Linked DNA regions of Homo sapiens: region 1 is linked to region 2. Evidence: fine-mapped expression QTL. A gene starts in region 2. The other region holds a variant in brackets. All regions are shown on one strand. Distances are between the middles of the regions.

Region 1 (5,375 bases), 25 kb before region 2:
GAGTGAAAAGGAAAAGAAAGAAAAGTAAAGCTAAAAACATACTATTCTTTAAAAAATAGACTTTCCTTGCAAGATATAATATCCTGTGGGGATTCCATACTCTCCTTCAGTAACAGTGACATGTCAAAACCACATTTACAGAGATACATTCATACATTTGACAATCACTGGGGAAGAGTTATCTGATTTGTCTGTAAGGAAAAGCGAATGACTAATGCACTGAGGCGCTGGTCCATGACCCCGCCACCCTCACTTTTATATGAGAGATCAGTGACCACAATAGTGACCAGTGGCCAAGAGGCAGGTATCAGGAGACTACTGCCCTCCAAGTCACAGCCACAGCTCTCTCAAGGACTGTATCATGGTGACAGAGCCCACAGAGGGGCGTGTCTCCTTCCACCTGTTCTGAAGCCAAAACACTCCCTGATCGGGCTGATTCTCAAGGAGCTTTCTTGACTTACTCACGTGATATAAATGGCACTCTACTTTTCTGTCTAGTCCACATTCCCAACCACCCAGGAGAACCACATCAGCCCCATCTTGATGCATGAGAGGCACATGCATCAAGTCAAAAGTACAGTAGCTACAAAAGGGAACTTAGAAGATGGGTACCCATTTTGGGGAGTCTTGCAGTCAGATCCTGTCCTGAAGGGCCTGGAACAAGAAAAACTTCTCTAAATGAAAAGGTTGCCACTGACACTGTTCTTCTATCAAGGCAGAGAAGATGTTTTAGGGACTGAATTTCTCAGAAGACCCTCCATTCACCTGGTGATTTGTCTCTTGCTTCCAATGTGGCAAATGGTAACTGCTAGCATAAGTATATTAGACTCTAGCCTGCTCGCCTGGAACAGTGGCAGAGACCAGCTCTTACCTTCTCACTTGAAAAGTAAATCTGAAGAAGTGCATTTGCACTTTGGGCAAAAAAGAGCCAGCAAAGGATGCAGACAGTCACAGGTAGGATGTTAAATGCCTATACAGAATGAGATTGACCAACTTGGACCAAACTCAGCACAGAGATGACAAAAAGTCACTGGTTCAGGTTGCTAAATGTTTTGAGGCACAGGGAAGTTAAATTTTTCAGTGTAACTGATATTCCCATTAGGCAGGAGGGGAGGAAATATGGTGACGTTTCTCCAGGCCTCGTTTTGGTGGCCCCCAAAGTCCAGTTCCCACTTAACTTCCTGTTCTAGCCTCTGTGAAGCTGACATCCCAAGCTTTTCAGTAGATCCCAGTCGTTTGGAGAGGTGAGGCCTGAACATCCACATCATTAGCAAGGCAACATGAGGGACGCTGCGGAGGGGCGTCTGCGCACAGCCAGTGTGGTCTCTGCTGCCTACGAGCCAGAGAGGAAGAGACACAAAGCTATTACAGCACTGCCAAGCAGCGAACATAAAAGTAGAACAGAATCCTTCCCCTACCTTCCCTCCTCCCTCAACCTCCCCATCCCCACATCCATACACATGCATGAACACACTGGTGTGCCTACACACACACCTTGACTACCCGAATGGCGTAGTCATGGTCTTCTTTCCCTGAGGAGCTGACCTCGTGACCATATTGGACCAGGCACTCCTTTCAGACCTGGACCATAAGCTACATACCCAAGATATGAAGCAGGAGCAGTCAGGATCCCTCTGGTAGAAGGAAATCGTGTAGGCTATGTCAGCCAAAAGACCATGCCAATAAAGTGACACTGTAGTCAGGGGCTACTTGGCTTCTGAGGAGGGTCCCTACTATTTTAGTTATACGAGTCCATTCTGAAACCAGTCATCAGAGCAGATCAACTTCTTCCCATTAACTGGCATCTAACATTTTACCTTGTGGGAAATTTTTCCCCTAGAACAGTGCTTCTCAAATGTTAAATGTGCATATGAATCACCTGGTCGTCCTAGTAAAATGAGGATTCTGACTCCGGAGGTCTGGGATGGGGCCTGGGATTCTGCATTTCTAATGAGCTTCTGGTCTTTGTTAAGGTAACAAGGAATAAGGCATGCGAATGGTAAAACAATCCCATCTGTATTTCCTGTCTCAAAAAAAATTAAATGCTGTTTTATACCCTTGACCATAATCTCTTTAGAAATGGGCAAATCACATTTTAGGAACAACAGTCCACCAAGTGCTAAAAAATCTCCAAAAGTTTTCTTTATAATACATAATATGAGTTACATGTTGCTAATGGGAATTACTGCACAGTGCAGTGAAATGTAATTGTTTCTTAATTCTTGCATAAGTGCCAACAGGAACACACAACTATTGAAGTTCATGTGCTTTCCATAATGTTCTTCCTATCTTCCCCAGAAGGTGGCAGAAGAGAGCCACGGCTACACCATGGTCTTCAATTACAGTGCGAACTTCTGTTGGCTTGTCTGAGTCTGAATCCTTGTGCAGCATGAGGCAAAGTTTTAGGGGTGGGGAAGGGATGGGAAACACAACTGAAAATACTAAACAAAAAACCCAGAAGCCTTCTGATAGGTTCAAGTTACTCAACAATTTTATTTACCCATTCTACACACACGCACACAAAAACACATTTCAAATACAGTTATGCACACTTTAAATGGATCTGAGTGGCATACTTTGTTATCAGTGTCACCCGATTAAATCAGAATGTTGCTAAAGACTTATGTTCCTATTTCAACAGAGCAGTGCCTAGGAAATCTACAGTAGAACTCTCTTCCTAGGCTTCCCAATCTGACCCATTCCCATTCAACCCAGAGGTGCTCAGCCCCACACCATCCCCCTTCCCAAAGGGCACCATGTATGATCAGCCCTTTGATTTTGCCATAGCAAAACCATCACCATACCAGCATAAGTTGATCTTCTTGTTAGGTCAATATAATAAAAAACGTACATAAGCAATTCAGATACAAAAACATTGCGTAGGTAAACATTGGTCACAGATATCCAGTGAAAGGCTTACTGGAAAAAATACTTTTGCCAACCCTTAAAATCAATTTTTAAATGCCAAATTTTCTTCTCATTTTTACTTACTAGATTAAGTGTAAAATCCAAATGCATGGCTGACTAAAAATAGCAGCCCTGTCCAATGGAATACAACATTTCAGAACAGGGTAAGCTGGGGACACAGAAGCTTCAGAAATGAACAGTGGAACTGAAGTCCTGCCCTAAAGCAGGGGACTGGATGAGATGACTTCAAGTAAAGGTAACAACTCCAGGCTCTGAACAGGCATTCCCTTAGCTGAGTTCACAAAATACCATAAAAGTGATGCATAACCTTTATCTTGTACAAAATAATGAGAATTTGGCCACTACTATATAAGAAATATCTATTTAAAATCATAGTGTACAGAACTCCCCTATAAAGAAAACA[C/T]GTGGAGTGCTTAATTCCTTCCTTTGTTAGACACATTTAATAGACAGAGAATTACCATAATGTACATACACTTCAATGGATACAATCAGAAAGCAGGCAGACTGTCAGCTTACAGACCCTAGACCGTTAGTCAGGCAACACCCAAATTTTACTATAGTCTATCTATCAGTCAGCACACAGACACTACTACAGTCTGTCAGTGACAAACAGATCCTACTAGAGTCAATCAGCACACAGATCCTCCTGGTCTACCAGTTGGTCAACATATAGACACTACTAGAGTCTGTCAGTCAGCACACAGACACTAAAGTCTGTCTGTCAGTCAGTCAGCACAGAGATCCAACTAGAGACAGTCTCCTGGACAGTATGGGTCTAAATTAAATCCCTGGACACAATTCTGACATCTGTGTCACCTTCAGGGAAAGTCGATTCTACCCCACCAGTGCTGCAACCCGACTCAGTTGTTACATATTTTCAATAAGTCAAAATACATAGAAAAGCTGGGTAAATCTATCAAATTTCTTAACAATGAACACAACATGGCTTCTGGGCTTGGCAAAGACAATGGAATGTGCATAAGATTACATAACCCAGATACAATTCTTCTGATTACTGGATACTTTTTCCCGTGCCCATTGGCCACTCCAACCACCAATGAGTTTCTGTCAATTAAGATCTCCTGCTCATAAAAAAAAAAAAAAAAGAAAAAAAAAGTAACATAGATGAATTTATTTCCAAACAGCTATATCATATGTTTCTTCAAAATGCCAGTGTCTCTGAAGACCAAATGTGGGTTGCAAAGAGGATTACCCAGATCCTCATATGGAATACTCACCCATTCAGTCTAGGGGTACAAATATATTGTGTCCTTAACTCCAACTTCTTTGGAAACAAACAAACAATAACAACAACAACGAAACACCAGAGGCAAAGATATAGGGCAGATCCCTAGCACAATGCAAGTTTTTAGAAGCTTTTCTTATTCTACTTTAAAACTCAATGTAAAAATCATCCCTTTACCAAAACAAAACAACAATACAGATAAGAGCTAAATTACAATTTAGGGATTAGGAGATAAGAAGAGAAGCAGGTTCTCTAAATCTGCTTTAGAATTCTCTTTCAAATCTGTCATAGTCTTGAAGCAAGAATAAGAAAACAGAATAATTTCCCTTTCCCCACTTTAGACAAGTAAATTTATAAAAAACTTTTTTAGAGGTGAGGTCTCACTATATTGCCCAGGCTGGTCTCAAGTGATTCTCCTGCCTCAGCCTCCCAAGTATCTGGGACTACAGGTATAAGCCACAGCAACCAGCTTATTCCAGTAGATTAAATGCTAATGTCTTTACCTATTTCTCACAAAACAAAACTTACAGCCTCAGCAGAGAGTACTTTTAAGTCCATTTTTATTTTGTAGGACTTGTGATAGACACAGTCATAGTAATGTATACAGATTACCAACATGCATTCAAGTAAGACCAGGAGAGAAAAGATGAGAAGTAGAGCTGAAACTTCTCTAAAATTTGGAGTAAGAGCTCTTTTCCATTCTACATTCTCCTGGCTTCTTCCTGCTAGACTTCTCTGAAGGGATCTTGCTTTAGAAACTAAAGGATGCTGAAGCCCTTGCTTGCCAAATTCCAATTTCTCATGTCCTATCTGAGGATAAGACCACCTCAGCTCCTCTTCTGGAGAAAGCGAACTAGCACAGGTGAGAGTGGGGAAATAACAGCAGGCTGAGAGCCAGAATGAACATCCCAGTGACCTGTCTCTAATGCTGGGTTAATGACAGGTTAACACAATGCTAGCTTGTTAGAGAAGTCCCCTTTTGCTAAGAGTGGGTACAGTGTTAATCCAAAGTCTGTGGATCAAAGTGCTCCCTCTTCTCATTCATTAGGTCTGAATTACTCTTACCTCACAGCAGAAGAAAAGACTGAATGCCCATTTGGGCTACAGATGCCACCATCCAAGCAAATGTGGACAATGCAACCTTGTAAAAGTGCCAAACACGCCTCCCCAACCATATCTCATTCTCACACTGGTGGTGGTG
Region 2 (5,338 bases):
CACTGAAGTGAGAAGAACTGACTGACAGGATTCTGCAGGAATGGTGCCATCCAGAAGCAGAGGCAAGAGTTAGCATTCCTTGAAGTTCCCCAAAATATGTGGGGAACAGAGTCCCAGATCTTTTGGGAAGCTATGCAGCCTATGATGCTTAGAAATACAGATGCTTGGGGACAGGAAATGATGCTTCATCTCCTCGCAAACCCTCCTGCTGTTTCTATCTAAAAGACAGGCATAGAAATGAAAATGCTCATGTGAAAGCTGTCCTCAAAAAAATGAACCTATAGGGAAAATAGTTTACAAAGTACAAAGGCTAAACCTGTGAGAAAGTAAGATGCCCAAGACACTGTGAGAAGCCAAGTGTCAGGGCTCATTCCCCTCAGGCCTGTAGGAAGGAAACCAAGCAGCACTGGCTCCCATCTGCAATTTCTACAATGAGCAGCACTCTCCCAAAACTTAGCCCAACAGATAAAGCTGGTAACATTACCAGCTCCAAGTAATTCCTGCACCTGCAACTGTGCCTTACTCATTGTGTGTACAATAATGTTAGTTCTAACTTCCATCAGCAAGCCAGTGTGCAAACATCCCAGGAGACAGAGATTCAGTTTAAGAAAGCAGTAAGAAACTGCTGGACTACACCAGTAGTCAAGCCCCAAGAACAGACATTTCACTAAGTCTACTTGTTTTAGACAGGACATTCTACCCTGGAGACTTTGCATTAAATTTCCATGTCAAATAATTATTTATCACTCCCACCAAGCAGCAGAGTCCAGGATTATAACTATATTCCCAAGATAAAATGCTGAGAGAGAGCAGTCCCTCCTCTCTGCCAGAACTCACAACATTTCTTCTCTGACATTCGAAGATTTGGGGTTTTGGTTTCATAGCTGTTGTTGTTCTGTTCTGAGGAAGATGCCCCAGACATGGCAGCTCTTCAGATGTCTGAAACAGAGAAGTAGAATGTAAAAAAGGGAAGGGGAAGAAAGAAGACATAACTTAAAAAAAGTCAGTGCATTGGATCCGTGTGGTATAAGTAAAAACACCCTGGGCCAAGAGGCAGGTTCAGTCCTGTTTCTCCCAGTTAGCAGCTACTTCTCTAGCCCTCTGTTTCCTCACCTATAAAAAGAGTTGCACTAGAACCTTACATTTATCTTCTGACTTACGAGTCTACATTTACAGACGTTATCTTCTTCAGTCCTAACAATAATCTTGTAATTAGGCAGATTTTGCCACCATTATTTCTTCTCATTTTACAGATTGAAAATTTGAGATTCATCGAATTAAGTGTCCTGCTCAAGGTTTCATGACCTCAGATTCTAGTTTTAAGAATCTGGGCAGAGTAGTGGCAGCAGTTGGGGTGGGGTGGGTTATGTATAGACGAAGTACATTACCAGGAAATTAACTCCAATCTAACGGTAGGACTCAGTTTTGCAAACAGTGAGGCCGGGCACGGTGGCTCACTCCTGGAATTCCAACACTTGGGGAGGCTGAGGCGGGCGGATCAAGAGGTCAAGAGATAGAGACCATCCTGGCCAACATGGTGAAACCTCGTCTCTACTAAAAATACAAAAATTAGCCGGGCCTGGTGGTGCGCGCCTGTAGTCCCAGCTACTCGGGAGGCTGAGGCAGGAGAATCGCTTGAACCCGGGAGGCGGAGGTTGCAGTGAGCCAAGATCCCGCCACTGCACTCCAGCCTAGCGACAGAGCGAGACTCTGTCAAAAAAAAAAAAAAAAAAAATGAAAAATGAAAAAGAAAGAAAGAAAAGAAAAAAGTGAGGGACGTGGGAAAATCTCGAACATATTCCCTGAAGGAAAAACAGTAACTGGACCCCAAGACAGCCCTAGCACGTCGTCATTTCTCCTCTAGTGCATTCTCAAGCCCTGCTCCGCACCCTCTCCCTAGTTACCCCCGGGACTCAGTCTAAAGAACGCCGGAGCGCTGAGGTGGTAAATGACTTCCCCAAGGTCACCTCAGGAAGAGGGGTAAGCCCTGATTCAAACTGGAGTGGGAAAGTCCTGAGCTCATGCCCCCAATTCAGACAACAGGGGGCTGGTGAGGACGGAAGATCCTGCGCCTTCAAGAGCCTTACACGATTCCTTTACTGACCACACAAATCCTCCAACCCAAACACAGACTGTGGCTCCCGGTCCCAGAACGTCCGCGCTGCCTGCCATGCCTGGGGACCAGCACCTCTCCCCGCACTTCATCCGGGGGCACGCAGCCCCCACATCCCGCCCCGCTAGACCCTACCCGGGGCTGCGCAGCTGTGGCTCACCCTACGATCTCTCCTAAGATCCCTCCCTGCCTTGGCCCCGGCGCCTGCCCTGTAACGCGACCGAACCGAGCCGACAGCTTGTGGCCGGGACCGGCGCTACAGTCGCCGGCAAATCATGTGAGCCCGTCTGGCCCCGCCCCCTCGCGCGTAGGTCCTCACCTGGAGAGAATCATCCACCAATCGGGCGCCTGCAGGACCCAGGGGGCGGGGCAGGGTCGCAATCGCCTAACTGGCTCGGGAAGGCGGCTGGAAGTCGGAACCAGAGAGATCACAAGCTCCTGAGTTTCCCAGCGCCGAGGAGCCTGGTGGCACTGTTGCTTGGTAACTAATAGGGCTGGGGGCGGTGTTAATAAAAAGCTTGACTTTTTTCTGACTCTCGCGAGAGTAGACTATTCGGTAGGCGTCTTGAGAGCGGGTGTGCCGGGTGACGAGAAAATGCTGCAAAGATTAACGCTCTCATTCCTGAATCCCAGCAGAACCTCATTAGATCCATAAATGGGAACGTAAGCTTTAAAGATGTTTTTGCTAGAATAAACTACCACAACACTTGAGCTAATTATGCCTTAGGGTGTATACATACCCGGCTCCACAGGTCAGACGCTGTGACCTAAGAAAATCAACCACTCTCATCGTTGAACCAGAAGCTTCCCTGGACCCACCCATACACCCCATTGGAGTTTTTTTTGTTTTGGTTTGGTTTGGTTTTTGTTTTTTGAGATGGAGTTTTGCTCTTGTTGCCCAGGCTGGAGTGCAATGGCACGACCTTGGCACCGCAACTTTTGCCTCCCGTGTTCAAGCGATTCTCCTGCCTCCCAGTATCTAGAATTAAAGGCATGGACCACCACGCCCAGCTAATTTTGTATTTTTAGTAGAGACGGGGTTTCTCCATATTGATGAGGCTGGTCTCGAACTTCTGACCTCGGGTGATTCACCCGCCTCGGCCTCCCAAAGTGCTGGGATTACAGGTGTGAGCCACTGCGCCCGGCCACCCCGGTGGACTTCTAACCACTCCTACCTTCCCTCCTACCTACCCCCTAACCCAGGCTGTATCATCCGTTGCAGTCGTCTTGAAGAACCAAGGAGGAAAATTGCACCAGCAAAAAAAAATTGAGTCATGAAAGATGTGAAAAGATGGAAACATTACATATAATTTATTCAGAAGCAAAGTCTTTTACAGTGGAGGTGAGTTTGCACCAAGTGAACTACACTTTTCATAGTTGCCCCAGCGGGCCCGTTTGATGCTTGATAAACCCACTCTTGGCAAGTGGGACTTGCTGTCTGAATCCCGGCTGGATAAAGAACAATGAGTATGGATTTCTTGGAAAAGAGAGATATAAATTCAGGGATGTCTTTATTCCTCCTTCGCCTGGGAATTAAACTAATTCTTCCAAAAGTTCAAACAGTTATCTCCTCTTTAAGGCTTTTTACAACTCCCAGAGTGCTCTAGTTGCCCTCTCTATGTCTATACAACTCTGTCTTTATTCATTCAGCCAGTATTTGTTGAACACTTTTTATTTGCGAGGCACAGTCCTGGGTTCTAGGCATACACGTTTGAAAAGGTACAGATAATCTAGCATTATCACGTTGCTTTGAAATTCAGTGGCTGTGTGTCTCACACCCCACCCTGTCTCCCAACTGCAATGAATACTTGTTACAATGAAGGCAGGAATGAAGTCTTCATATTTGTATGCCCAGGAACTGAACTGGAATCTGATGACACGCGTTACACGACTCCTCCTTACACTGCCACCACCTGAATGAGGCAGCTGCCCTGGGCCCAGATGCTGACCTCATACTGTGCTTTCTGAAGTGGCAAATAGACGTTTTCAAGCACAGTCCCAGGGAGGCAGAAAGGCCAGTCTTTTGGCCCCTGGAACCCCAATGAGTCAATGTTTAATGCAGCCACGAGTCTAGTCACAAGTGTGATTGTTTTTGACTGGTCCTTTGACTCACTGACCATTCCTGGCATTCGTTTGCGTTGTGAACTATGATTCTGTTTCTCCTGGTGTAGTCTGGGTGTAGTGTGGAAGCCCCAATTTAATAATTTCCGACCTCACTAAGTGCAAGGTCACATTCCAATCTCCAGACCTTCATTCAGGAACTCCTTCCCCCGCCCTCTTTTCTTGAGCATATATGCTACCCACGCGGAGGGCACCTCACTCGCTCTATAGGTAGCAAGACCCGTTGTCCTTTAGGAATACGGAGGTTTACATCTTCGTTCTGAGGGTGGGGGAAAAATCAGTTGTCACTTTAAAAGAGTTCGCGCTTGCTAAGGTACTAAGGCAGAAGCCGCACCGAAGCGTCGCGATAACTGCAACCACCCGCAACTTCTCGCGATGTTTGGCCCCGCTAAAGGTCGCCATTTTGGAGTCCACCCGGCGCCTGGTTTCCCCGGCGGCGTCTCCCAACAGGCTGCCGGGACCAAAGCTGGCCCCGCGGGTGCCTGGCCTGTGGGCAGCCGGACCGACACGATGTGGCGGCTCCGCTGCAAGGCCAAGGACGGCACCCATGTTTTGCAGGGGCTGTCCAGCCGGACCCGGGTGCGGGAACTCCAGGGCCAAATTGCCGCCATCACCGGGATCGCCCCCGGCGGTCAGCGAATCCTCGTCGGATACCCTCCCGAGTGCCTGGATCTCAGCAATGGGGATACCATTCTGGAAGACTTGCCCATCCAATCTGGTAAGGAATCAGGGCTGGGGCCAGGGAAAGTCCCGGGAGGATGGAGAGGGGCGTGAGAGAGAACAAAACACCAGTCAAGGCAAGGTGGCTGTGAGTCGGCGGGGGGGCTTTGAGGCCAGGGGCGAGGATAGATCAAAGAACAGAGAATGCTGACGGGGGCCAGGGCAAGTGTCTAGCAACTCCTTGTCTTGACACAGGGTTGAAAGGGAACCCAAAGCCTTGAAGACCCCCTTCCCCATTCCGCTTTCTGGTCGGCTTTGAAACTATCCCATTTTGTTTTCCCTCGGCGTCCACAAAAATATAAAGTAGGGCCTATTTTCTCTGTCCTTATGTCTCTTTTTCCCTATATCACCGATGAGATCTCAAGGGTGCAGGATTTTTTTTTT

Direction of the effects. Alleles are on the strand shown, and positions count from the first base shown. SD is a standard deviation of normalised expression in the study named.
As copies of T replace C in region 1, the expression in left ventricle of the gene that starts at base 2,365 in region 2 goes up (small effect, 0.21 SD a copy in GTEx).

Evidence for each region.
Region 1: its variant is fine-mapped to the expression of PFKFB2 in left ventricle (GTEx, PIP above 0.99). The same link has a PIP of 0.9 or more in blood mononuclear cells.

Annotation. Positions count from the first base shown.
Region 1 is chr1:207,074,912-207,080,286 of GRCh38, reverse strand. PFKFB2 (6-phosphofructo-2-kinase/fructose-2,6-biphosphatase 2) reads right to left here. Exons shown (of 15, transcript NM_006212.2): 15 at 2,470-5,375. Among named protein-coding and RNA genes, the nearest start is that of C4BPB, 11 kb to the left of the region's middle. The variant C/T (reference allele first, on the strand shown) is at 3,332.
Region 2 is chr1:207,050,302-207,055,639 of GRCh38, reverse strand. It overlaps PFKFB2 (6-phosphofructo-2-kinase/fructose-2,6-biphosphatase 2), which reads right to left and starts at 2,365. Exons shown (of 15, transcript NM_006212.2): 1 at 2,274-2,365; 2 at 838-939. The coding sequence starts at 922. YOD1 (YOD1 deubiquitinase) reads left to right here and starts at 4,432. Exons shown (of 2, transcript NM_018566.4): 1 at 4,432-4,952. The coding sequence starts at 4,610. RefSeq lists enhancers at 2,435-3,074, 4,298-4,868.